Linked DNA regions of Homo sapiens: region 1 is linked to region 2. Evidence: fine-mapped expression QTL. Tissue or cell type: testis. Region 2 holds a variant in brackets; the other region holds the start of a gene. All regions are shown on one strand. Distances are from middle to middle.

Region 1 (2,683 bases), 38 kb before region 2:
TTATCAAAGTCTAGAACATAAAGTGGACTGTGTACATGCACTCTTTAGGAGCAGTCTTTTGGCCCCAAACTAGATTCTATGGGAATTCCCAGGTAAGATGCTTCTCCAAAATGAAGTGAAGCCATGTGACCCAGGGTCTTTAAACATTGCTTCCTCAAACCCTCCCCCAGTAGGGTACTTCTCCCCCAGAGGCATGGGGATCTGGCCACACTATAAGACAAACTTCTGGAAGTGGGGGCACATCAAGCGTCTGGGTGGTGCCAGTGCCTGGGCCTGAGCTAAAGTCTTCACCAGCCTGCCCCTTTTGGGGAAGCTTCTGACAATTTCGATTACCGAAATCTTCCTGCCTTTTGGGATAATACAGTCAAATGCTCCATTGAGACAGACTTCTGTATCTTTACAGGCCCTAGAATGAGACCAACCCAAGGCCCAGCATCTGCAGAATGTCCCGTGTAGAACCAGGAAGGAAAAACTAAACCACTCCTTTTCCCCTCTTCCCAACACACCCTTCTCTCCTCTCAGATCCTTGGAGTTCTCCGCACTCAGAACCTACAAGCTGCCCAGGGGTCTTCCAGACCAGCCCCAGTTGCTTCCAGCCTCCTTCCGCCAGCACATCTCTGCAGCCTTGGGCCACCGATCCTAAGCCAAAGCCTCCCCAACCTCTGGGCTCAGAAGCAGGTGTAATCCCAACTCCAGCAGGGAATTCCAGAGGTGAAGGTCACGGGAGCATCTTTAATCTTCGGTTCCCAGTAGAGAAGATACCCAAAGAGCAGGGAGCAGGAGCCAGCTCCAGGCTATACATTTGTTTATTCATCAATCATTCATTTATGCATTAATCATTCATTCCCCCCACCCATCAGTCATTCATCTGCTTATTTATTCATTCAATGTGTTTGTACCTTGTCCTTGCTTTGGTTACCGCAGATGTTGGTCCTCTCCTGCTTTGATCTGTCCCCTGTTTCTCTGGCAGCTGCACAGCAGAAGCCTTCTCATGTCCCTTGTTGGGTACTTGGCTGAGAGTGTGTCTCCCTCTCAGAGGTGCCTGAGGAAAATCAAAGGGACAGTGCAGAGCTGTCTGCTGCCTGCAAGTTCCCTTCCATTGCAAAATCCAGCCTTCTGGTCCGTAGGTCAGTGGGAGAGATTGGGAGGGGCTGCAGAGGGGTCTCCAGGCCCAATCGAGGAATAATGGTCTGGACATCCTCACCATGTGTGAGCTCTGGCTGTTTAAAAAATAAAAAAAATAAAAAAATAAATATACTGGTCCTTCTGGGAGAAAGGGGACTGCAGGAGACTCTAAGCCTCTGTGCCTGGTTCTGAGGCCTGAGCTCAGCACTTTGGCAGGCCCAGAGAACATGGTATGGGAAAACCTGGGGCTGGAGTTTCAGAGGCCTAAGCTGTGAGCCTTCTGACAGGTCTCCCACCTTCCATCCTTCCATCTACCTGACCCTGTAAAGTCTGTTCTCAGCCAGCAGCCAGAGATCCTTTAGTAAAAGACCACGTCCTGCCTGTGCTCAGAACCCTGCCCTGACTTTCAGTTCTCTCGGAGAAAAACCCAAGGCCCCACTTGATGGGGTCCCCCTCATCTCCCACTCACTCCCTCCATTCAGCCCCCACTGGCCCCATCCTTCCCGAACTCACCAGCCACACTCCAACCTTAGGGCTTTTGCTATAGTTGTTTCTTCTAGAACAGGCTTGACCTGGGTGACTTGCTTGAAAGTGACTCACTTTCTCACTTCCTTCAAGTCTTCGCTCAATTGAAACCTTCCCCATAAGCCTACCATGACCCATCCTATTTAAAACTGCAAAGCACACAGGCACGCGCGCACACACACACACACACACACACACACACACCACTCTCAACCCCCCTTCCTCTTTAGCACTCATCACCTTCTAACATAATACATAATTTACTTATTATTTTTACCATTTATTGTCTGTCTCTGCCTGCTCAAGTATAACTTCCAAAAGGGTAGGGGTCTTTGTATGTTTTCTTCCCTGATGTATCCCGAGGGTGGGCCATCCCATGGATGCCTGGTGTATAGCAGGAGCTAGTAAAACATTCCTTGGATGAAAGAATGAATGAGTGAATGGGCTGTAGGAAGCTCTGAGGATGAAGCTTGTGAAGCCACAGGCTGTGGAGTTTGGGGCTTCCTGGGGGTAGAATTTAGGAGGTCCACAGTGGCTTCTATCAGCTGTGCTGAGGAGAGAAGAGCCAGGCAAATTGCCCGCTGCCAGCCTTCTCGGGGAGGAAAGGTAGGCAGCAGCATCGGTGGGGATTGCGCTAACTCAAGGTGCCAGCTCCATGCTGCTCTGGGGCTGGCCAGCGCTCTGGATGTCATTAGCTGATTTGTTCTGCTCTGCAGAATGTACTTTTCATATTTAGGCAGAAAAAAACAGCTTTCGATCCTTGTGCCCTTTCTTCTGTGAGCTGTAGCACATGGCCTGCTAATTATGAATTAATCCTCTAAAGAGCATGTTCATTATTCTAATTTAATTGTGCTTCGTTTCAGAAAATAACTAAACCCAGCGTGGAATAAACTCCAATGCTGATCAGTTTTCAAGAAGTTAACATAAGACAAAATTCTGCTAGAGGGCAGCAGCAATTTGGAATCATTAAAGGGAACCCATGTAAATAATAAAAACAAAACTAAAATGCAGAATTAAATTAAGGAATAGGAAA
Region 2 (2,683 bases):
AATTCAACCCAAGGGTCCAAGGCAGCACCTCAAGAGCTTTTACACAATTACAGCACAAGTGCACATGGAAAAGTCAGATTCCTTTTTTAATAACTCCTTTCTCAGACTCAAAAAATTTAGAAGATTTAGAAAGTACAAAAAGTGTATAGACGCCAAGTAAAACGAACTACAACCCTTGACTTGAGTGACGCTCATTTAAAGAGGCAGGACATTACTAGGACTTAAATTGTTTCAAGAATTTATCCCTTTACCCTCAAGTTTCAGCTACTAACATCTGAAAGAAAAAAAAAATACGGCTCTCTTACTTTGTCCAAGAGGACAAAGCCTCCTGAAAGGAAGTCAAGGCCACAGCTGATGGTAACAGAACAGATTCTGTTTCCTGCACTCCAGAAAAGGGGAGGCAGCTGTTCATTCAGAAAAGGGTTATTGATCATCTCCTATGTCTGGCACTGTGTTAGGCCCTGGGTTCCAGCACAGCAGATGCCATCCCTTCCCTTGGGGCACTTACACCTTCTGCAAAGGCTGCTGTGGTCCCTGAGGTCATTCCTACAACACATCCCTGAAACATACCCACATGCACTCTCACACACCCCCACACGCACTCTCACACACCCCCACACACCACAGCATCACGCACAACTTGCAAACTGGAATACACAATCATCCACAGATACTCCCACTCACACACCCATATATCCACATCACATCACACTGACATATACTTACACAGACTACACACTCACATGCAATGCACTCACCACACACACACACATTCCTACAACACGCTGTCACACATGCAGTAACTGCTAAACACACACGAAGCAGTTATCTCCTCCTTCCTTTGTACTCCCTTAGCTCCTGTGTAAAGTTAGCTGTGGCATTTACCATACTGTAATGTGATTAATTACATCATGCCTCTCCTCCACCTCTGCCTCAACCTGGAAACTTCCTAAGTTCATTTCTGTAAGCCCATCTTCCTGCTCAGTGCCTGGCACATAGCAGGTGCTCAGTAATGTTCACTGCATGAACTTTGAATGCCTCCACTATGGACTTCGGTCCAAGGAGCAAGTCTCACCCTCTCCTCCACTGGCTAGAGTTGGAGTTAAGGGGGAAAAACATCTAAGGGAGCCCCTCAGCAAATGTTCTAATACAAGGCTCTCCCAGCTCAGCTCTACAGCACCCAGTGATCCTTTCTGCTTGTCCCACTTGTTGGAGGGAAGCCAA[C/T]GACCTTGTGAGAAGAGGCAGGAGAGACTTTGTCAGATCTGCATGGTGGTCTCAAGGTCCCTGCCCGATTCTCCCATTTCTCCCTTTTTCTTTTCACAATATTACTCCCCAGTAAACCTTTTGCACACAACTCCAAAAGGAGGAGTGGGAGGGAAAGGAGGAAGAGGAGCATGAAAGACTAGCTGCATCTCCACGGCATGCACCCATTAGTGAGAGCCACAAGCCTAGGTCTGACCTTTGGCTTCAAGGAGCCAGAAATCTGATTTCTCAGCCCTCTGAAGGTTGAGCAGGTGTCAGGAGACTGAGATGTGCTCACCAGTTCCATGCAGAATGGTAGGTAGACTGAGCAGCTGATAAATCTCAGGAGAGGGAGGGGAGGGGAGGGGAGGGGAAGAGAGGGAAGGGGAGGGGAGGGGCCGAGGAGGGGGAAGGGGGTGAGGAGGGGAAGGAGGGAGGAGGAGGGCAGATAAGCAGAGGGGAGGAGCAAGGGGGAAAGGAGGGAGAAGGGGAAGGGGAGGGGAGAGGAGGAGGGGAAGGGAGGGAGGGGAGGGAGAAGAGGAGGGGGAGGGCAGGGTAGGGGAGGGGAAGAGGAAGGCAGGAGAGGGGAGGGGAGAGGGGAGGGGAGGGGAAGGGAGGAGGTTGGCAGGGGAGGGGAGGAGAGGGGAGGAGTTGGGCAGGGGAGGGAAAGTGGGGGAGAAGGGGAGTGGAGGAGAGGAGAGAGGAAGGGGCAAGAAGGGAAGGGGAGGGCAGGAGAAAGGAATAAGGGAGAAGGGGAGGGCAGGGGAGGAGAGGGTAGGGGAGAGGAGGGGAAGGGAGGGAAAGGGAGGGAAAGAGAGGGGAAGGGAGGGGAAGGGATGGCCCCAGATGCACCCTAGAGCACTCACTCCAACATCTGTAAGGTGCACTCTGAAGCAGCAGCCCAATCCTTGGGGCTGCTAAAGCCCCACTATTCCCACAACCTTCTAGTGTCAGGTCAGCTCCAGGCCATGCCCAGGCCAAATGGAATACCAGCATAACTTCAGAGCCACCCACCCCTTCCCTGTCACAATACCTGTTGGGTTTGGCCATCGTTAGTCATCCCTGATGCTCTGCTGAGGTTGTGTGACACCCCCACACACAAACTCCCACCCCTCCCAGGCACCTTCACACACAAGCACAGCCCTGGGGGCAGCTCCCATTCCAATATCATGCTTAGGAACTTGACTCTGTCCCCAGGCTAAGCTTCCAGAGACCAGGACTTGCCCACGTCCCCCTCCCCCACCATAATACACCAATACTGAGTCCTCCCTTCTCTTTCTGCAAGAAGGCAGCAGCAAGCAAGACCTTCTACTCTTTGGGGCTGTTTCCCCACCACCAGGCTGAGAGCTGTGCTCCACCTTGGGACGCATTAGCATTTTTAAGGTTCTTATTCCCATACACATCGTGCCCTGGGATTGTCCTCTTCCTTGAGGCATTAGCA

What was found. PIP is the estimated chance that this variant, and not a neighbour inherited with it, causes the effect. A credible set is the group of variants that fine-mapping cannot tell apart.
Region 1: LINC02898 starts here. The variant in region 2 is the best candidate, but not a certain one, in a credible set for the expression of LINC02898 in testis (GTEx, PIP 0.78).

What each region holds. Positions count from the first base shown.
Region 1 is chr2:41,952,089-41,954,771 of GRCh38, forward strand. It overlaps LINC02898 (long intergenic non-protein coding RNA 2898), which reads right to left and starts at 1,718. Exons shown (of 4, transcript NR_161189.1): 1 at 1,639-1,718; 2 at 900-1,220. LOC124905996 (a long non-coding RNA gene) reads left to right here. Exons shown (of 3, transcript XR_007086296.1): 3 at 523-961. RefSeq lists an enhancer at 1,454-1,593.
Region 2 is chr2:41,990,181-41,992,863 of GRCh38, forward strand. No RefSeq gene overlaps it. Among named protein-coding and RNA genes, the nearest start is that of LINC02898, 38 kb to the left of the region's middle. RefSeq lists a silencer at 229-523. The variant C/T (reference allele first, on the strand shown) is at 1,225.